Linked DNA regions of Homo sapiens. The protein of the gene in region 3 interacts with the protein of the main gene of each other region in a pairwise test. Each region holds a gene or a part of one and is shown on either strand. Other genes may lie near its edges.

Region 1 (7,555 bases), on a different chromosome or scaffold from region 3:
CAGGCGTGGTGGCGCATGCCTGTAATCCCAGCTACTCAGGAGGCTGAGGCAGGAGAATCGCTTGAAGCTGGGAGGCAGAGGTTGCAGTGAGCCGAGATTGCGCCATTGCACTCCAGCCTGGGCAACAAGAGTGAAACTCCATCTCAAAAAAAAAAAAAAAAAAAAAAAGAAAGGGGAAGAATAAACTTACAAACTTTCTCATCTTCGTGTGTGGCAGACAGAATAACAGCCCCTAAAGAAGTCCGGGTACTAATCCCCAGAACTTGTGAATAGGTTACCTTACATGGCAGAAGGGGAATTAAGGTAACAGATGGAATTAAGGTTGCTAATCCTTAGCCTTGATTATCCAGGTGGGTCCCACTATAATCACAAGGATCTTAATAAGAGGGAGGTAGGAGGTCGAGAGAAATGAGAAGATGCTACCTGCTGGCTTTGAAGATGGAAAGGGGACTATGAACCATGGAACACAGGTGGCCTCTAGAAGCTGGAAAAGGTAAGGAAATGGGTTCTCCCCTGAGCCTCCAGAAAGAACCAGCCTGTCCGACACCTTGGCTTTAGCCCAGTGAGACCTATTTTGGACTTCTGACAGCAGAACCCTAAAACAAATGTTATGTTGTTTTGAGCCACCAGGCTTGTGGTAATATAACAGGTATAGGAAACTAACACGCCCTGCTTCCACTTACCTCTTTCAAGTACAAGTTCATGTCATGCCTGGTGGCAAAGCAGTCACTGTATTAAAAGCAACCAGACCAATAGCTTCCTGCCCACGGCAGCAGGCAAGAACACAAGAGAGGCCACAAAAGCCTGGTAGGCAGGACACTGGGATCTGAGGGAAATTAAATGGCAAGAGGAGGCAGAGAAAAGAGCAGCAGGCAAAACTGCTGTCGGCTTCTCAGCAGTGGGCAGGAGTGAAATCTGGAGGGGCTGAACAATCTTTTGGGGCCAGCCAGTGGGTGATTTTTCTTTTAATCACAAAAGGAGGCTGGGAGCAGTGGCTCATGCCTGTAATCCCAACACTTTGGGAGGCCAAGATAGGAACTGGAGTTCACACCAGCCTAGGCAACATAGGGAGACCTCCCTCTCTACAAAAAGAAATAAAAATAATTAGCAGGGCGTGGTAGCCCAGGCCTGTAGTCCAGGTTACAGGAGGGGCTGAGAAGAGAGGTGAGAGGATTGCTTGAGCCAAGGAAGCAGAGCGTGCAGTGAGCTATGAGAGCGCCCCTGCACTCCAGCCTGCGCAAGAGAGCTAGACCCTGTCTCAAAAACACAACAAAACAAACAACAAAAAAATGCACAAGCTGCTTTTACTTGTTTACTTATAAGGTAACAAGTGGGCTGGGTGTGGTGGCTCAGGCCTGTAATCCCAACACTGTGCGAGGCAGAGGTGGGAGGACTGCTTGGGTCTAGGAGTTCAAGACCAGCCTGGGTAACATGGCAAGACCCCATCTTTTAAAAAAGTAAAAAATTAGGGCTGGGCGCGGTGGCTCATGCCTGTAATCCCAGCACTTTGGGAGGCCGAGGCGGGTGGATCACCTGAGGTCAGAAGTTCAAGACCAGCCTGGCCAACATGGCAAAACCCTGTCTCTACTAAAAATACAACAATTAGACAGGCGTGGTGGCACGCGCCTGTAGTCCCAGCTACTCAGGAGCCTGAGGCAGGAGAATCGCTCAGCTCACCCAGGAGGCCGAGGTTGCAGTGAGCCGAGATGGCGCCACTGCACTACAGCCTGGGCGACAGAGTGAGACTCCGTTTCAAAAATAAAATAAAATAAAATAAAATAATAAAATAAAATAAAATAAAAAATTAGCCGGGCATGGTGGCGTGCGTATGGTTCCAGCCACTCAAGAGGCTGACGTGAGCTACGATCACGCCACTGTGCTCCAGCCTGGGTGACAGAGCGAGATCTCGTCTCTTAAAAAAAAAAAAAAAAGAAAAATGTCCCATTAGTTATTAAACTAGAATTGGGTTCCATTTGGCCACAGAGTTCTGCTTTATTTGTACTTTGCTACCAAACCACAAAAGTTCACCACTTGTTCTATTTGCCATTCTTCCTTTTAATTCCTCATGAACAAACTTAATAAATTAACTACAGCATGTCAAACAACCTTTTGCAACCCTTGCAATTTCAAACTCTTGGAGGGAGGCACCCCTGGCCTGGGCCAGCAGCCTCAACGCGCGGGAGCGAAGGGAGCGGGACAGCGGCTCCGCTTGCCAAGTCCCCAGTCAGGGGAGGAGCGGCGTCCCCACCGCGGTGCCCCTCGGGCTCCACACCCGCGTCTCGGCAGGCGGCGACGCACCGGACCGGCGGCTACCGGGCCCAGACTCCCGCGGGCAGGGCCGTCCCGGAGCCCGCGCCTCGCCGGCGGCGCCGCTCCCCGTTCTCATTTCTGAACAAAGACGTGGACCGGGCACAACTCGCTGACGCCGAGAGCGGCCGGAAACTGCGGGGAACGCGGGCCCGGCCATCCGCGCGTCCGCCCCGAGCCCCGCAGAGGGGCGGCAGGGCCAGCGACCTCCACCCCTCGGCCCCCCGGGACCCGGACTGCGACCCCTGCCCCGGGGACCCCAGCGACCCCAACGACTCTCATCCCTCAGAGCCCCTGAGATCCTGCCCCGCGACCCCAACGACCCTCATTCCTCAGAGCTCGCGGCGACCCCTGGCCCCGCGAGACCGCGAGCCCGGCCTGTGACCCCCGCCCCAGCCACCCACATCCCTCAGCGCCGCCAGCGACCCCGGCCCCGGCGACCCTCATCCCTCAAAACCCCCTGCGACCCCCGCCCCGCGAGGGCCCCGCGCACCGCTCGCCCGCCGGTCGCCCCGGGCTCCGCGTCCCGCACCAGTGTCCCCGGGAAACGCCAGCCGCCGCAAGCGCTGCCGGACGGCCGGGCCCGGAGGGGACTGGGGGACAGCGAGGGGGAAGCGTCCGCCGCCGGGGCGCACTGACCGTAGCTGTCGTCCTCCTCCATGGTGCGGGAGCCGGGCTCCGCGCTCCGGCTCGCCGCTCGCGTCCCGCCGCGCCACCCGCGCCCCCGCTCGCCTCAGCCCGGCTCGGAGCCCCGCCCCCGGCGCCCCGCGCCCCGCGCCCCGCCCGCCCGCGCCTGCGCCTGCGCCCGCCCCCTGCCCCCGGCCCGAGGCCCCGCCCCTCGCCCGAGGCCCCGCCTTCCTCCCGCGCGCGCCGCACCCCGGGTACCCGGCCTCCTCCCGAGGCTCCGGCCTGCGCACGCGCGTCCACCCGAGGCTCCTCCCCTGCCCCCGCCTCTAGACCACGCCCCCGTCCCGAGACACACACACCCCCCCCCCTTCTCCCGGTCCGCCTCCTGGGGCCGAGCAGGTTTCGGTTTCTGAAGGGCGGTGCAAGTCCCCGGGGTGGCGGACTCGACCTGGCCTGCAGCCAGGCTACTGCACGAAAGCCCAAGGTCGTGTCCGGCCACTGAAGGGCAGGGTGGTCCTTGCTGACGCCAACCTGGAAGGTCAGACCCGGCCCCAGCTTGCCAGGGAGGGCCCGGTCCTTGGCGAAAGGCCACAAAAGCTATTTGAAGTCATTTACTCCTGCGTTCAGAACCTTTACATGCTGTATGTCCTAAGTTTACTGCTTCTACTTCTTTTTATTTGTCCTGAGTTTTACCTGGGTCAAGATTGAAAGGAGGGCACTTCAAGTCCCAGCGTTTTGGATTTTATTTATTTATTGGAGACGAGTTTCGCTCTTGTTGCCCAGGCTGGAGTGCAGTGGCCCGATCTCGGCTCACTGAAACCTCCGCCTCCCGGGTTCAAGCGATTGTCCTGCCTCAGCCTCCTGAGTAGCTGTGATTACAGGCATGTGCCACCAGGCCCGACTAATTGTATTTTTAGTAGAGACGGGGTTTCGCCATGTTGGCCAGGCTGGTCTCGAACTCCTGACCTCAAATAATCCGCCTGCCTCGGCCTCCCAAAGTGCTGGGATTACAGGTATGAGCCACCGCGCTCGGCCTTCTCTTTCTTTATGACAGAGGACAATCCCACTGCTGCAGAATGCCAGCACCAGAACCCCCCTTTCCCCCTGCAGTCACTTGTGGCTCCTGCACCCTACACAGAACACTCACTGAGAACTCCACAGAGATCCCTGGACTGCTGGGAATTTTTTGGACCAACCAAAAAACGGGAGTAAAAGCCACAGAACTCTTTCCTTGTGGGCCCACCTGTCCTGAGTTTTACTATTTTTCTTTTTCTTTTATTTATTTATTCATTTTGAGACAGAGTCTCACTCGCTGTGTTGCTCAGGCTAGAGTACGGTGGCACCATCATGACTCCCTGCAACCTCTGCTTCCCAGGCTCAAGCAGTTCTCCCACCTCAGCCTCCTGAGTAGCTGAGACTGCAGGCACCGGCCACCATACCTGGTTAATTTTTGTATTTTTTGTAGAGACGGAGGTTGCTAGGTTGCCCAGGCTGGTCTCGAACTCCTAGGCTCAAGTGATCCTTTCTCTTTGGTCTCCTTCCTTGGCCTCCCAAAGTACTGGAATTACAGGCGTGAGCCACCACGCCTGGCTGGATTCATGATCTTAACCTTCACTGACTTTACCAGATTGTCCAGTTTTACAGGTGACCTTAGAGAGTCACATTTTGGCCCTAACGTGTCCTTGGGCTTCGGCGTGTGAGGTCAGAGACCCAGCTGCATTTTGTTCCTCTTGGCCTAGACTTAGGACACTTTTAGAATTGACCCCACATTGACCTGGCAAATCTTCTCAAACCATCTGTCACATGGGCTAATGGAGCACTGAGCCTCTCCCCCAGTATTTGCCATCCTCTGTTTCACTCCCTACTTCACTTCTAACCCCAGACTCACCAGAAGGTTCAAGGTATCTTCGAGCTGGCTTTCTTCCCTTATCAGTATGCAAGTCCCAGACCACCTCAGCTCTTGCTCAAAGACCAGAACTCCAGAAGAAAAGCGATTCAGATGGCATGTTAATTCTTACTATCAGCACTCTAGACCTCTTAGCTGAACTCACCAACTGAATAGATTTGGAGAGGGAGGGATACTGGTATTACTGCTAATCACAGATTAGCAGAGAACATGACTGTTTACAAATTCTGTTCCCTTATATTGTTCCATTAGACTGGTGTTTTTCAGCTGGGTGAAGTGGTTCATGCCTATAACCCCAGTACTTTGGGAGGCCAAGCTAGGAAAACTGCTTCAGGGCAGGAGTTCAAGACCAGCGCGAGTAACATAGAGAGACCCTGTCTCTACAAAAAATTAAAAATTGTCGAGCATAGCGGCACACGCCTGTAGTCCTAGCCACTCTGGAAGCTGAAGTGGGAGGGATCCTCTGGGCCTGGGAAGTTGAGGCTTCAGTAAGCTATGATTGCACCACTGTGCTCCAGCCTGGGGGACAGAGTGAGACCCTGTTTCCAAAAAAAAAAAAAAGAACAGTGTTTTTCAAACAGCGGGTCATGACTCTTAATGGTTATGAAACAAATACTTATTAGATGAAAAGAAAATAGAATTTTTAAAAAATTGTAGTCTATCACACATAATACAGAGACAGTGTTTGTTCTGGTTGCAAATGAATGCATGCATGTGTCCACTGGGTAGGGCTATCCCTGACCATGGATGACTGTCAAAGAAACACAGAAGCTACTCCATTAGATCACATTCATGATCAGAGATTTTTTTTTTTTTTTTTGAGATAGGGTCTTACTGTGTCATCCAGGCTGGAGTGCAGTTGCACATCTCGGCTCACTGCAGCCTCCACGTAGCTGGGATTACCACCATGTGCCACCAAGCCCAGCTAATTTTTGTGTTTTTAGTAGAGACAGGGTTTCGCCATGTTGGCCAGGCTGGTCTTGACATCCTGACCTCAGGTGATCCGCCCACCTCTGCCTCTCAAAGCACTGGGATTACAGGCGTGAGCCACTGCGCCCAGCCAGAGAGGTCCTTTAGCTGTTATCTTTGCATGACATTTGGAAGCCGAGGCTAATAGACATCCAAATGCAGCCTACTTGCAAGCAGGAGTTAAGTCAGTTTCACTCTCGTATCTTGTATTTGTGCCCCCAGCCCTTGGAGCGTAATGAGAAGGAGCCGGCGGCAGGGAGACAGGAACCACAGGACTCCACTCCAGCTGTGGATTCTAACCCAGACCTCTTCCCCCACATCCACTAATTCTTCACAGAACCTTTAAACTGGGTGTGGGCTCTCTGCAAGTTTCGCTGTGGTTTCTAAGTCCTTAGTGGTTGATCCACTTGACAACTAATTTTTTTAAGTTGGTAGCTCCCTGCGGTATTTGACAGTTTTTGGTTTGGTTTTGTTTTTGAGACAGGGTCTCACTCTGTTGGCCAGGCTGGAGTGCAGTGGCTCATGGCTCACTGCAGACTCCACCTCCCAGACTCCATCGATCTTCCCACTTCAGCCTCCCAAGTAGCTGGGACTACAGTTGCACGCCACCACACCCAGCTAATATTTTATTTATTTATTTATTTTAGAGACAGGGTCTTTCCATGTTGTCCAGGCTGGTTGTGAAATCCTGGGCTCAAGTGATCCACCCACCTTAGTCTCCCAAAGTGCTAGGATTACAGGCATGAGCCTGCTCCTGGCCACCCTCTGGTATTTTCCACTGTTCCTGGCACATACCTCCCTTAGCTCTTGTTACAGTCTTTTGTTATAATGTTGGTTTAGGCCTCAGGAAACAATCTCTCTGGCCTTCTCTTGTTCTTTCACCTGCCCCAAGGCAGGACTTTAATCTTGCCCACCTTTCTGATTGTGGGTCTTAAGACCCTCCCCAGAGAGGGTCCTGCCCTGTGCCCTATGGAAGGAAGCTTCCATAAAAATTTCCATTAAAAAAAAAAAAAAAAAAAGACTGGGCTAGGATAGCTGAACATGTGGAGGTTCCTGGAGGGTGATGCCTAGGGAGGGCTTGGAAGCTCTGTGCAAGGGCCCTTCCCCATCTCTTCATCTTTATCCTTTGCAATATCCTTTATAATAAACCACTAAATGGCCAGGCGTGGTGGCTCATGCCTATAATCCCAGCACTTTGGGAGGCTGTTGTATCACCTGAGGTCAGGAGTTCGAGACCAGCCTGGCCAACATAGTGAAACCCCGTCTCTACTAAAAATACCAAAATTAGCCGGGCTTGGTGGCGGGTGCCTGTAATCCCAGCTACTCGGGGGGCTGAGGCAGGAGAATCGCTTGAACCCGGGAGGTGGAGGTTGCAGTGAGCTGAGATCGCGCCATCACACTGGGGGACAAGAGCGAGACTTCGTCTCAAAAAAATTAAAAACAAACAAAATACTAAATGTAAGTGTTTCCCTAAGTTCTGTGAGTGGCTCCAACAAATTAATCAAACCCAAAGAGCGGGGGTCATAGAAATCCCAAGTTTAAGGTGGTCGCTCAGAACTTCCAGAGGCCCAGGCTTGTGACTGCTGTCACAAATGCAGTCTTGGGGACTGAGCCCTCAGCCTGTGAGATCTGACCTCACTCCAGATAAGAGTCCAAGTTGGACTGGATGAGAGGACCCCCAGGTAGTGTCTGCTGCTTGGTGTGTGGGGATAAACCCCCACGCCTCTGGGCAGAGCAGTCTTCTGT
Region 2 (7,019 bases), on a different chromosome or scaffold from region 3:
ACTTGCCCTATTCACAGAGGCCCACCTCCTCCAGGAAGCCTCCCCTGACTGCCCTGTCTAAAGCAGCCCCTGCTCCCTCCTCTCCTGCCCTGCTTCCTGTTTCTCCCACCCCCCTGGATAGACACCCCCAAAAGGATCCTGTTTCCTTGCATCTTTTCTGTCCCTCCCGCTAGACTCTCGGCTCCATGAGAGTTCAGTTGTTCTACTCTTTTGCTCACTACTGTGTCCCCAGCACCTAGAAAGAGTCTGACATGTCATAAGCACTCAGTTAAACACTCGCTGAAGGCACGCATTCCTTCCCCGGAACTTGAATCTCCTCCTCCACTGGCTCATGGGCTCATTATTTATTCACTTATTTATTTGAACAACCAAGAAGTGGTATACCATTTTCCTCACATCCCATTGGCCAGAATGTAGTCACGTGGCCACACCTAGCTGCAAGGGAGGCTGGGAAATGAGCCTGTAGCAGGGTGGTCCTGATGTCCTTACTGTGTAAAATGGGGAGGCTGGATTTGGGGGATATTTTATAGTCCCTGCCCCTGGATACTGGGGCTCAGAGAGGTGAGGTGACTCAACCCACAGGGAAAAGGTCACTGAGCCAGGATGGGACCTTGAATTGGGCTGACTCCAAAGCCTGTGCTCTTTCATCTCCACTTGGAAATGAATTAAATGAAATAAGATTTGTGTGTGCGGCATTCTATGCAAGGTGCTGTGATGATGCCCACAACTAGGTCAGCTGTCCTATCTTCATGCTTCATGGTGGCTTCTGTTTCATCCACAACACTCTCCTTCTCTGAGTAATATGGCCTCCCTATTACTCAGAGAGAAAGTCTTCATCCTGGGCCTGGGGCCTCCACAACCTCTCCAGCCTTGGCAGCCAGACTTATTCCCTGCCATTCCCAAAAAGAGCCTGCCAGTCCAGCCTGCCAGCTCCTTCCTGCTCCAGAGCCATCCAGGACTCAGTCCCACTTCCCCATGTTTGCCCAGGCCGCTCCTGTACTCTGGGATGCCTTCTCCTGTCTGCCTGCCCAAATCCTCGCTGACCTTCAAGTTCCAGCGTCGGGAAGTGCCTGGCCGCATTTCTTAAAGGTTTTACAAGGATAGACATCATTTCCTCCAAAAGAACACAGAGGGAATGTTGAGCGCTCCCTTTCCCTACTTCTCCTTCTCATGATTAAGCAGGCATTGTGGCTGTTGAGATTAAAGCCCCATGCGGAGATGCAGGGCACCAGGCTAGATGGAGCCCAGGTCCCCAGGCAGCGGTGTGGAGAAGACTCATCATGTTCACCTGGCCCACCTATCCATTTGGACTTTTCAATAAGAAATAAATCAGTTTTGAGAATGTTTCGGTTGCTGTTATTCTGAGTCTCTTTAAGCAGCTAAATCTGAGATATACCTAATACAGCATCCTCATCTGTGAAATGTGAACCATAACCCTTGCCTCACAGGGCAGCTGTCAGGAAGGAAAGAGCTACACTTTGTCAAACACCCAGCAAGAATCCAACATATGCTGAGTCCCACATGTGTGCAATGGGTGCTGTGTGCATCTGGCTCTTCTCTTCAGGACCAAGGCACCATCCCCCCAGCTGCTGGGAGGAAAGCCTGCTGATGGCTCACAGCTGAATCCCTCCCCAGACACTAGCCTCAGCCAAAGGGAGGTGCCACGCCCAGGAGTTCCCCTGACCAAGGGCAGCCACTGCAATAAAAAGCCAAGTCCCGGTCAGGCAAGGTGGCTCACGCCTCTAATCCCAGCACTTTGGGAGGCCGAGGCGGGCGGGTCACGAGGTCAGGAGATCGAGACCATCCTGGATAACACAGTGAAACCCCATCTCTACTAAAAATACAAAAAATTAGCCAGGCATGGTGGTGGGCACCTGTAGTCCCAGGTACACCGGAGGAGGCTGAGGCAGGAGAATGGCGTGAACCTGGGAGGCGGAGCTTGCAGGGAGCCCAGATCATGCCACTGCACTCCAGCCTGGGCAACAGAGTGAGACTCTGTCTCCAAAACAAAACAAAACAAAACAAACAAAAAAACCCAAGACCCCTTGCCTGGTTTCAGGACCTACCCCAGTTTTCAGATACAGAACGTCGGGACTGAAGGAGAGGCTGGGTTCCAAGGGAAGAGTCCTGCAACATTGTGGCAAGTATATATGGCAATGACTCCCTGGTTCCACATTAAAACACCTGTGGCCATTCACTCCAACAACTGTACACTGGGGAAAGAGCAATATCCAAACATTCTGAGGATTGTTGGACACAGGATCCAAGTTGACATCAGCGCTCAAGACTGAAGTGTCTTCAGGGCCACATTTGAGTGGGGGTACATAGAGACCAGGTGGTAAATGAAGTCCTTCCAGGTCCAGCTCACTAGGGGTCTGCTTGATTCATGGCCACTTTCCTGGCCTACAGATGTAGAATTGGAATGGACATCGCTGGTACTTGAGCCCATATTGGTACCTTGGCCCATGGGGTCAGGATCATTGTAGTGGGAATAGCTATTTGGAAATTTATGAAGCTGACCCATCATCCCCACAGCGAAGAGACTAAATAAAAAACTATATCCTGAGGGGAATGGCAGGTGTGGGTGCCACTCTTGAGACCTAACGGATGCAGGAGCAATGGCCCTCATCACATACCCAAGCACTTCCCCGGTCGGGAGGATGGCCTGCTCCTTCCAGCTGCTTCCTTCTAGCAGAGAATTATATACTATGCAGAAAACAGTTCCTGGAATGGCACCGGGTCCTGGTAGAGATAGAGTGCCAGCCCACGGAACATCATGTAACTAAGTAGCTCAGATGGCTCCATCTGTCCCACTAAGTCAGAAGGTCAAGCGAGCCCAATAGTAACCCTTTGTGAGTGGTACGTCCAGGAGCAGGTGTGAGCAGAGCCAGAGGGCTCCAGTAGGCTCCAGGGATAGGTGGCCCAGATCCTCATGTCACCGCTGCTGGTGGACCAGGGTCTATCCCTCTGCTTACACCGTGACCACATGGGTGGGTCCCTTATGACTTTCTAACAACAGAGGAAAATGCCCAAGGCTGGTTGCAGAATGAGTTGGCTCAGAGTTTGGGCGCAAGTGAAAACCAGGCAGCTACTGAACTACAGTCCTGCTCAAAGGTGTCCTGGAAAGACAGTGATGAGGGCAAGTCCTCCCAGGGGGCAGGGCTTCAGGCAGGGCACCTGGCCATCCACTTCCTGTGGAAAGAGAAGTGACTTCTTGAAGTCAGAATATCCATGCATCATGGGCAGTGGTGAATGGCTTGACTTCTTGGTCAGAGGCAAGAAAGAAGGAAGATGGGAAGATCAGAAACACAGATGTCAGGAGAAGAGGCAGGTGGATGACCCCGTGGGAGCGGAATGTCCACTCTGCCAGCAACAGGGACGCATGCTGAGCCCATCTTTTCTCCAGAAGACCAGGGGGCAAACTGATTCCATGAAACCCCTTCTATTCTGCAAAAGTCAACAATCCATCTTGTCTGGAGTCGACACGTGTTGGAAATGTGTTTGCCTTTCCTGCCCACAGAGCCTCAGCCAGCACCACTATCCAGAGGCTTAGGGTGTTTGACCCACCAACACAGCACACCACATAACATCACAGAAGACCAAGGGATGCTCTCTACAGCAAAGGTGGTCTGAAGTGAGCACGTGGCCATGAGATCCACCGATCCTCTCTAGCATTTCATCGGAAGGTGCTGGCCGGATGGAATGGAGCCATGGGGCGGTCTTGAGAAGGTACAGCTGAGGTGTCAGCCTGGAGGTGATATCCACTTGGATGGGGCGCCATCCTCCAGGAGGCACCATATGCCCTAAATCTACCACCACTGTGTGGTGCTCTGTCTCCAGCAGGTGGACCACAAGGGTCTACGAGCTGAGGGGTAGGAGTGGGAGTGGCCCCACCTGCCATTCTCCTAGTGACCCACTCTGGAGTTTCCTTTTTTTTTTTTTGAGACAGTCTTGCTCTGTCACCCAGGTTGGAGTGCAGTGACATGATCTTGGCTCACTGCAACCTCTGCCTCCCAGGTTCAAGCGATTCTCCTGCCTCAGCCTCCCCAGTAGCTGGGATCACAGGCATGCACCACCATGCCCGGCTAATTTTTTATTTATGTATTTATTTTTTTGAGACAGAGTCTCACTCTGTCACCAGGCTGGAGTGCAGTGGCACGACCTTTGCTCACTGCAACCTCTGCCTCCCGGGCTCAAGGGACTCTCCTGTCTCAGCCTCCTGAGCAGCTGGGACCACAGACATGAGCCACCATGCCCAGCCAATCTCTGTATTTTTAGTAGAGATGGGTTTCACCATGTTGGCCAGGATGGTCTTGATCTCTTGACCTCACAATCTGCCCACTTTGGCCTCCCAAAGTGCTGAGATTACAGGCGTGAGCCACCGCACTGGGCCAATTTCTGTATTTTTAATAGAGACGGGGGTTTCACTATGTTGGCCAGGCTGGTCTCGAACTCCTGACCTCAGGTGATCCACCTGCCTTGGCCTCCCAAAGTCCTGGGATTACAGGTGTGAGCCACTGTGCCCGGCCCACTCTGGAGTTTCTTTCTGTCTCTGCAGGTCTAGAGGTACTGTTTCCAGGAGGGAGTTGGCGGGGACACTTATACCAGGGGACAAAGCAAGAGTCTTATGACCCGTTAAGCGCACAAACACCTACTCCATGCCAGTCTCTGTATAACTGCTGTCATTTAACCCTCTTTGAAGTAGGTATTTTCCAGTTTGAGACACTGAGGCTTAGGAAGGCGAAGTGACTCGCCCCAGGTCTCATTCACAGGAAGTGGCAGTGCTGGGAACTGCACCCTTGTTTGCTGACCCCCACGCCTCTGCCCCAGGAGAGGTGGATTCCCAAACTGCTTGGGACATGCAGGGATGGAAGGTGTAAGGGGCCACCTGTGTGGAGATGCAGAGCAGGGACAGCCGGGGAGGCAGTGCTGGAAGCTGGCTCCGGAACTCTTCCGGCAGGAGCTGGCGGGGAGGCCGTTGGTCTCATCCATGGGAAAAAACCAATCACCTTGGGTTGCCTTGGAGGTGAACAATCCGATTCTGTTTTGTTTTGTTTGTTGGCTTTATACAGTTTTCCTGTTGGCTTGGGGTTGTGTTTCTGCCCAGGGCGCACCTGCTGGAGGAGGCTGAGTGGATTCCAGACTGGCTGCTTGTCTGAGAGAAGCCAGGGTGGGCTCCAGCATTCCTACAGATGCTCCAAGGTGTGGATGGCCAGAATTGAGTGATGGGGCTCCTGAAGCTCCTCCTAGGCCGACCTTCCTGGTCCCCATGGGGCTTCATCAGCTCCTGGCTCCCACCTGCCTTCAGGGTCCAGGGAATCATTCACACATCCTCTGTTCCAGCCCCTTCTCTGAGCTTCAGATCCAACCATCCCCTATGTATTGGTCACCACCGCTCTTGTCATTGTGCCCAAAATTGAACTTCTAGAATGCCCCCTCCTCCCCATCCTCTTCCTGAATTCCTGAGCTCTGGAAATGGTCCACATTTCCCCAGGAGGCACTCTGACTCCCACCTGGCTGTCACCCCTTGGGTCTCCTCCATCACCAAGTCCTGTCTATTTCTTTCCCCTTCCATGGCTCCACTGTCATCCCAGCCGCTATCGCTTTGCTCAGGGGGACTTCAGGGCTTTCGGATGCCTCCCTGCCTCTTCTACCCATTCTGGTCCAGTTTCCCATGGCATCCCATTGTCCTGGGGACAAAGACCCCAAATCTCACCAGTCCTGCTGGTGTATCCCCTCCATGCTCCTCTCACACTGTGCCCCTCCCCGTCCCAGCTCCGTGCTCTGCCTCCCTGGCTGCCCTTCATTCACTCCCCTGAGCTCTAGCCTTCCAAAAGCCTTTGCACCACCATTCCTTGTACCCAGAACGCCCTTCCTTCTCCTCTCTGCCAGCAGCCCCTCCTTATCTCCTACTTCAGATCCCTTTTCAGGGGTCCTCCTGGGTTCCATCTAGGAGCCATCCCTGCCCCCACCCCTTCCCATTCCCCACAGCGTTTCTGGGATCTGCATGGCTCAATAACCAAGCCACGCCGTTGGTTAAGGAAGGCATGGTGGCTGAGCACCCATGGTGCGCCAGGCCCTGTGTGATCCAGGCTCTTCCCATCCACTCTCATTGAATCCCACAACCACTCCGAAAGGAAAGGTACTTCTAAGCTCATCCTACAGGTGAGGCCCCTGAGACTCAGAGACGTGAAGTGTCCTGCCAAAGGTGACACAGCTGGAGGGTGGCAGAGCTGGGATTCACATCTGGGTCCATCTGGGGCTCGGAGGCTTACAGCCCTGATGTTGATCTTCCGAAGGCTGATCTCTCCATACGAACCATCAAACACCCGTCGGACGCTAAATCTGGGTTTCTGACGGGGTTACACGTTTCAGAATAAAGGCAAGATGCAGAATGATGCCTGCAGTTGCCCCCACCCAACCCCTGCAAAGCCAACTTTGCAGAGCTGGGGAAACTGAGGCACGGTTCCCAGGGGAGTGGGATTGCATGGGAATAGTGAGCAGGTTGCTTGTATTTTTACTGCATACAGCTCCTTTCATACTCCCTTCTGGTTGACAAGTGTGTTCGTGAATCCTCAGTCCCCTGTCCCCTTCTGACGGGGGTCCTGTCCCGAATAGGTGGCAACTGGTCAAAGCATCTGAACCCACATGAGGGTGATGATGGCCCCGGGCTTGCTGTGTCTTACATGGTGCACACGGAGCCTACTGACCCTTCCTCTATTTGTTAAAAAGAGGAGATTCCTCCCCATTTCAGAGTTTCAGGCACCGGTGTAGGCTCATGGGATATGTTTTTTTGTTTGTTTGTTTGTTTGTTTGAGACGATGTCTCTGTCTGTTACCCAGGCTGGAGTGCAGTGGCCTGATCTCGGCTCACTGCAACCTCCACCTCCCAGGTTCAAGTGATTCTCCTGCCTCAGCCTCCCAAGTAGCTGGGATTACAGGCGCCCACCACCAGGCCCGGCTAATTTTTTTTTGTATTTTTAGTAGAGACGGGGGTTTCACCATGTTGGCCAGGTTGGT
Region 3 (7,934 bases):
ATAAAAGCATATCTGCATATACCAATTAAGGAAGCTGCCCGTGATACGTTAAAAATAGTAGTCATTGTTCTAAGCACTTAACTTGTATTATTTCATTTGCTATCGATTATCTCTTAAATGAAAAAGTATGGCTGGGCAGCACTTTGGGAGGCTGAGGCAGGCAGATGGCTTGAGCCCAGGAGTTCAAGACCAGCCTGGGCAACGTGGTGAAACCTCATCTCTACCAAAAAAAAAAAAAAAAATTTAGCCAGGCATGGTGGTGCATGCCTGTAGTCCCAGCTACTCAGGAGGCTGAGGTGGGAGGATCACTTGAGCCCAGGAGGTGGAGGCTGCAATGAGCTGAGGTTGCACCATTGCACTCCAGCATGGGTGACAGAGCCAGACCCTGTCTCCAATAAAAATAAAAAAGAAAAAGTACAATTTGCAGAATAGTATGTAGACTATCTGCAGATATAGAAAATAGAAGAATATCCCAAATTTAGTAGTGGCCCCCACTGGGGAACATGATAGAGACACACTGGGGAAAGGGCACATCCTTCTTTCACTTAACCTATTACCTTTGAAATGTATACAGCAAATATGTAGAACTTTATATTCATAAAGCTTTTTAAAATAGGCTGGGCATGGTGGCTCACACCTGTAATCCCAGCACTTTGGGAGGCCAAGGTAGGTGAATCACTTGAGGTCAGGAGTCCGAGACCAGCCTGGCCAACATGGCAAAACCCTGTCTCTACTAAAAATAAAAAAATTAGCTGGGTGTGGTGGCGCACACCTGTAATCCCAGCTACTTGGGAGATTGAGGCACGAGAATCACTTGAACCTGGGAGGGAGAGGTTGCAGTGAGCCAAGACTGCGCCACTGCACTCCAACCTGGGCAGCGGAGCAAGACTCTCTCAAAAAACAAAATGAAACCCTTTAAAATAGAAGTTGTCAGCCGGGCGTGGTGGTTTACGCCTGTAATCCCAGCACTTTGAGAGGCCGAGGCAAGGAGATCACTTGAGGTCAGGAGTTTGAGACCAGCCTGGTCAACATGGTGAAACCCCATCTCTACTAAAAATACAAAATTAGCCGAGCATGGTGGCACACGCCTGTAATCCCAGCTACTTGGGAGGCAGAGGCAGGAGAATAGCTTGAACCTGGGAGGCGGAGGTTGCAGTGAGCCAAGATCATGCCATTGCACTCCAGCCTGGGCAACAAGAGCAAAGCTCTGTCTCAAAAAAATAGATAAAAATAAATAGAAGCTGCCACTTACTGTGTTCCTAACTGCCTAACCCTGGCAGATGCTGGGAGCGTAGAGTAAAGGCGCCGTGGTTCAGGGAGAGAGGGGGCTGGTTCTCACCTCTGGTGGCAGCTCAGGAAAGATATTTGATGAAATCAAGATCTGTCTACCGAACACTGATAAAGGCTCTATTAGAATTTACTGGACTTCCCCAGAGTGCCACAGGGAGGCTGCTGCATGAAGAGGCAAAAATGTTAAACGAGGATGCAGCACGGAGTGTTCAAGGGACACAGACCTGAGGCAAAAGACAAAGCTGGAGACGGGCATTTTGCAAATTTGAAGCCAACTGGCTCACAAAATGAAAGAGGCTGTTAATACCAAGTGTGAAGGTGGGATGGCATCACCAGAGCTGGCCAAGTTCAGAGAAGCTGGAAATCTCAATTTGGATGTGACGTTATTAAATGATGACAACACACGTACACTACATGGGCCAACCATGGGCGAAATTCAGACTTTGGGTCTCTGGGTTACAGGTAAGGTCGTGACAGGCTTTGATGACTGGGGGTGCTGCAGAAATTCTGAAGTAGGTGACAACAGGTAGCTCCTCCCCACAGAATTAAAGCAATAATAACTCATATCTACCCCATGATACAGATTTCAAAGTACTTAATGTCATCACAGTGCTAAGGCCTAGGAATCCCCTTCTGGAGACAAAGAAACAGATTCAGAGAGCTGTAGAAGTTGGGCTGAGTCACATAGCAGTTGAGTATGGAACTGATTTTATCTGATTTTTTTTTTTTTTGAGACAGAGTTTTGCTCTTGTTGCCCAGGTTGGAGTGCAGTGGCGCAATCTCGGCTCACTGCAACCTCTGCTTCCGGGTTCAAGCAATTCTCCTGTCTCAGCCTTCCGAGTTGCTGGGATTATAGGCGCCCGCCACCACGACCGGCTAATTTTTTGGATTTTTAGTACAGACAGGGCTTCTCTATGTTGGCCAGGCTGATCTCGAACTCCTGACCTCAGATGATCCACCCGCCTTGGCCTCCCAAAGTGCTGGGATTACAGGCATGAGCCACCGCGCCCGGCCTTTTTTTTTTTGAGGTGGAGTTTCACTTTTGTTGCCCAGGCTGGAGTGCAATGACGCGATCTCAGCTCACCGCTACCTCTACCTCATGAGTTCAAGCAATTCTCCTGCCTCAGCCTCCCGAGTACCTGGGATTACAGGCATGTGCCACCACACCCGGCTAATTTTGTATTTTTAGTAGAGATGGGGTTGCTCCATGTTGGTCAGGCTGGTCTCGAACTCCTGACCTCAGGTGATCCGCCCGCATAGGTCTCCTGAAGTGCTGGGATTACAGGCCTGAGCCACCACGCCCGGCTGATTTTATCTGATTCTAAAGTCCTGGGAGTCCCCTGACCTGATGATGATGATGAAAATGAACATTTACTATGTGTCAGATATTTTTCTAAGATTAAAGCTCTTGCTCTGAGGTTCAGAATTCAGGGGATCCATAAACTTGGATGGGAAAAAATTATATTTTTATTTTTGCTAAACTCTAACCAAAATTTATGATTTCCTTCTATATGGATTGAAGCAGTAGCAGTATCTTTGGCTTAGTCACCAATAGAAATCACATATTTTCATATCAAATTGTAGTTATTGCAAGTATCTCAAAATATTTATGCTCAAGTGATTTCAAAATCACAGTGGTTGTTAAACCACCACTAAATTGTTCGTGAGCAACTTCTGTTTCAGATGCTCCTGTGATGTAGCCGCCATTAATTGGTTACCTCCAGGCTTAGCAGTGGTTCAGTGACCAAAGGGCGAATCTGCCTGTTCTGAGTAGGGCTTCTCCACTCTTCTGCATTCCCTGTCTTTTTTTTTTTTTTTTTGAGACGAAGTCTTGCTCTGTCGCCCAGGCTAGAGTGCAGTGGCGCGAACTCGGCTCACTGCAAGCTCTGCCTCCTGGGTTCACGCCATTCTCCTGCCTCAGCCTCCTGAGTAGCTGGGACTACAGGCGCCCGCCACCATGCCTGGCTAATTTTTTGTATTTTTAGTAGAGACGGGGTTTCACCATGTTAGCCAGGATGGTCTCGATCTCCTGACCTCATAATCCGCCCGTCTCGATTATAGGCGTGAGCCACCATGCCCGGCCCAGCATTCCCTGTTTTTAGTTGTTTGCTGATCAATATGTAAGAGGAGGGGCGTCAAAGACCACCCCACAGTTTAATGTCCTTATTCAAGCTGGTCGACAACACACTGAGGTCATTAAAAAAGAAAAATTTAACTTTCGGCCAGTCTTATTAATGTTAGTAAACACATAATATAAATTTCTGGTTTTATTTTTTTGAGATGGGCTCCTGCTATGTTGCCCAGGGTGGCTTTGACTCCTGGGCTTGAGTGATACTCCCCCGCTCAACCTCTCAACCTCTCGAGTAGCTGGGACTACAGTCGTGTGCCAGCACTCCCCAGCTCCAAATTTTTTTTTTGTTTTTTGTGGGTTTTTTTTTTGAGACGGAGTCTTGCTTTGTTGCCAGGCTGGAGTGCAGAGGCGTGATCTCAGCTCACTGCAACCTCCGCCTCCCAGGTTCAAGCGATTCTCCTGCCTCAGCCTCCTGAGTAGCTGTGACTACAGGCGTGCACCACCACACCCAGCTAATTTTTGTATTTTTAGTAGAGACGGGGTTTCACCATGTTGGGCAGGCTGGTTTCCATCTCTTAACCTCATGATCCACCCGCCTTGGCCTTCCAAAGTGCTGGAATTACAGGCGTGAACCACCATGCCCGGCCAAATTTGTTTTTAAATATAGTTTTGATAATTGTTCTCATTGTAATCCTAAGCATTTTGTTTTGTGCATTTATTTATTTATTTATAATACAGAGTTTTGCTCTGTTGCCCAGGCTGGAGTGCAGTGGCACGATCTTGGCTCACTGGAACCTCCCCCTCCTGGGTTCAAGGGATTCTCCTGCCTCAGCCTCCTGAGTAGCTGGGATTACAAGCACCCACTACGCCCAGCTAATTTTTTGTATTTTTAGTAGAGATGGTGTTTCACCATATTGGCCAGGCTGGTCTTGAACTCCTGATCTCAAGTGATCCGCCCACCTCGGCCTCCCAAAGTGCTGGGATTACAGGCGTGAGCCACCGCGCCCGGCCTGTTTTATGCCTTTATAAGCAGCTATTCTGAGAAAGCATTCACAGGCCTCACCAGATGCCAGAGTCCATACTGCAAAATCCAAGGGAGGCTAAACACCCCAGTTCTAAATGTTTTCAAGCCATTCAGATACTGTGCACAGCTGCCCTTTGAAGTACGGTCTATTATATCTCTTTTACAGACCCAGAAACTGAGGCGCAGAAGTTAGGGTCAGCCCCAGGTCACACAGCTAACAAGAGCTGGCCTAGGCACCCAGGGACCTGGCCCCCTAGCCTCTGTGCTTTGCTACTGATTTCAGCGCTCCTCTTGTGGCTTTTTCTTGAGGAGCCCAAGGGTCAGGGTCCCACCCCGCGATATGAGGCCAGTGGCACTGCCCCCTAGCAGGCGCGAGATGCCAGAGCCCTAGGATGTCTGAAGGGCCGGGCAGGAGGCGGACGGGCGTGGGCCAATGGCTGTCGCAGTGCCTCATCTTGCCGTCTGTGTGAGCCCAGGTATGCAGTAGGCTCCGCCCAGGACCCAGCCCGGCCCCTCCTTAGGCCTGGGCTCTGGGAGCGGAAATTCCGGCGACAGCAGGGCAAAACAGGAGCTGATTCGAGCTGGCAGAGCTGGGCCATGGAACCGGTAGAGACCTGGACCCCCGGAAAGGTGGCAACTTGGCTGAGAGGTGGGTGGGGCTGGGGTAGAGTTGGGCTTGAAGGGGACTAGGTGTGGTGTCCCACCGGGAAGCGGGAGGAGAGGAAAAGGAAAAAAAATCTGCGGACTGGGTGCGCTGGTTCACACCTGTAATCCCAGCACTTTGGGAAGCCAAGGTGGGTGGGTCACCTGAGGTCGGGAGTTCAAGACCAGCATGGTGAAACCCCGTCTCTACTAAAAATACAAAAATTATCTGGGGGTGGTGGCAGGTGCCTGTAATCCCAGCTACTTGGGAGGCTGAGGCAGGAGAATCGCTTGAACCCAGGAGGCAGAGGTTACAGTGAGCCGAGATTGCACCGCTGCACTCCAGTCTGGACGACAGAGCGAGATTCAGCTCAAAAGAAAAAAAAAAATAATAAACTGCGGGCTCTATCAGTCGGTCAGTCAGTCAACAAATATTTACAGAGCACCTAACATGTTCCAGGAACCGTGCTGGGCAGAGAGACAGATGAGATGACCCTGGGGGGCCCAAGGACCCAGAAGGGGGCCCCTCATCATGGCAGTAGCCCAAGAGGCCTCTAGGGTGATAATGGGGAGGCGGTGTCATGAAAACAGGAGGGAGGCCTGACAGGCCCACACCCACTGTATCTCCTTCATCTTCCCTGGCCCCAGGGCCAGTGGGCTGTTGTTAAATCCGTTTCTTAGAGTCAGAAACTGACACACAGAGCCAGGAAATGATTTGCTCAGTCTCTGGTGTCATTTTCCCCGCTCCACACCCTGAGCTCCTAGTGACAGAAGCAGAAGCCCTAGGCCAGACTGAAGAGGTTGACACAGCCCCACCCTGGGGCTCCTATCCAAGGGGCAAGGTGCTGTCCAGGCTCAGCGAGCCCACACAGATGGGAAGCAACACACCCCACAGGCAGACTCAGAGAAGGAAGGGCCTCCTGACACACAGTGCGACCAGGAGCAGGCAGTCAGGACACCCCTCCCAGAGTGGGGAGCTGGAGCGCACTAGAGACAGGCTCAGGAGGACCAGCCCGGGTAAGGGCAGGAATTCAGGGCTGGGTTCAGACTCCCAGGCTGGATTCCAGGCCCACCCCCACCGCTTGCCAGCTCTGTGACCATAGGTCTTAGTTTTTCTGTCCATCAAATGGGAAAGGCAACTCTGACCTTATGAAGTCGACAAAGTGAGACAATCATGACATAGTTCATTTGTAGCTCAATGCCTGGGTCTATTGGGAGGGCACCAGCCCAATACAGTCACCGTGCAGGAAGGAGGTGGCTCAGGGGCCCATAGCCAGGGAGTGATAGGTTCATGAACTCCCAGTCCAGTGCTCTCAATGTGACACAGGGAACACACACACACACCTCCCCCAGTGAAGGAGCCTGGCTTAGAAGGGGAAGAATTCCTTCGAAGAGTGAGCAAGCTACTTAACCTCTGTGTCAGTTTTCCCATCTGTAAGCAGGATAATGATAGTCTTTACCTCCTAGAAATGCAGTGAGAATCAAATGTGTTAATATGTGTAAAGCTCTTATAGATTTGCATAGCACATAGTAAGCCCTCAATAGACACTTTTCTTATTTTTCAGTGCCTACCTTGTCCAGGCACAGGCCGGGGGTTAGAGACAAATGGTTATCTAAGGCCTGATCTTTGAAGAGCCTGTGATAAAATGGGAAAGACCGATGGTCAAGTGCAGGGGTTTGTGGAGGCTCAGGGGCAGTGGGAACAAGAGGAGAGCCCTCCATCCCACTCAGCCTGGGAAGTTATGGAAGGCTTCCTGGAGGAAGTTAGATGAAAAAGGAAGTGAAGGAGATAGAAGAGCAACGCCAGCAGGAGGAATAGCACTTGCAAGGACGCTGAGGTAAAAGGGTGTTCCAGGAGCTGCAAGGAATTAGCTCTGTGCATCTGAAATGTTGAGTTTAGGGGGCTCTTCAGGATATGATGCTGGAAAGGGAGGTAGTAGCCTAATCATACAGGGCCTGTAGGTCATGGTAAAGTCTGGCAATAATAATATGATGGCTATTATTGGCTGTCTCCCACGAACCAGACAGTGGCCAAGGCCTTGACATATGTTGTGTCATTCAATACACACATGATTAGAAGGTAGGTACTTTTATTATTCTCACATTACAGGTGAGAAAACTGGGCACAGAGCAGTGCTATTACTTGCTCAAGTGTTCACAGTGTCTCAGTGACTCCATAGCCTCTTGTTCTTATCCCCTGTATCATTAGTTCTCAAACTTAAGGGAGCATCACAGTCACCTGCATTAAAATACAAACTGCTGGCTGGGCGTCGTGGCTCACACCTGTAATTCTAGCACTTTCAGAGACTGAGGCAGTCAAATTGCTTGAGCCCAGGAGTTCGAGACTAGCCTGGGCAACATGGTGAAATCCCACCTCTGCAAAAAATACAAAAATTAGCTGGGTGTGGTGGTGTGTGCCTGTAGTCCCAGCTACTTGGGAGGCTGAGGTGGGAGGATGGATTGAGCCTAGGAGGTCAAGGCTGCAGTGAGCCGTGACTGTGTCTCAAGCCCCTGTCTCAAAAAGAAAAAACAAAACAAAAACAAAAAAAAGACTGCTGGGCCCCAACCTCAGAGTTTCTGATTCAGCAGGTGTGGGGTGAGGCCTGATAATTTGCATTTCTAACAAGTTCTCCGGTGAGTCTGCTGCTGCTGGTCTGGGGGCCACTTTTAAGAACCCATGTCCTATACTTTCCTGCTTCTCAACTCAGTGGCCTCATCTGTGAAATGGGCAGAACAGCCTGGGTGTCAGAGTTGTCATTAGGGTTAGACTAGAGGGAAAAGAGCTTTGCAGGCATGAAGAACCATCCCAAAAGGTCCTGACACCTCTGCTTCCCCGAGCTGAGCCTTACTCTCCCTCCAGGTCTTGACGACTCCCTGCAGGACTATCCCTTTGAGGACTGGCAGCTG

The links. The genes of interacting proteins can lie anywhere in the genome.
Region 1: the proteins of CNKSR1 (region 3) and CYTH1 interact in binary tests that used the Homo sapiens proteins (3 or more experiments, as listed by UniProt).
Region 2: the proteins of CNKSR1 (region 3) and CYTH4 interact in binary tests that used the Homo sapiens proteins (3 or more experiments, as listed by UniProt).

The regions. Positions count from the first base shown.
Region 1 is NC_000017.11:78,779,256-78,786,810, forward strand, and holds the start of CYTH1 (cytohesin-1), read right to left. Parts: upstream 3,019-7,555; 5' UTR 2,969-3,018; coding exon 2,947-2,968; exon of another isoform or gene 2,801-2,946; intron 1-2,800. UniProt on the Homo sapiens protein: Promotes guanine-nucleotide exchange on ARF1, ARF5 and ARF6. Promotes the activation of ARF factors through replacement of GDP with GTP.
Region 2 is NC_000022.11:37,285,507-37,292,525, reverse strand, and holds part of CYTH4 (cytohesin-4), read right to left. Parts: intron 1-7,019. UniProt on the Homo sapiens protein: Promotes guanine-nucleotide exchange on ARF1 and ARF5. Promotes the activation of ARF factors through replacement of GDP with GTP.
Region 3 is NC_000001.11:26,172,566-26,180,499, forward strand, and holds the start of CNKSR1 (connector enhancer of kinase suppressor of ras 1), read left to right. Parts: upstream 1-4,925; 5' UTR 4,926-4,982; coding exon 4,983-5,034; intron 5,035-7,887; coding exon 7,888-7,934. UniProt on the Homo sapiens protein: May function as an adapter protein or regulator of Ras signaling pathways.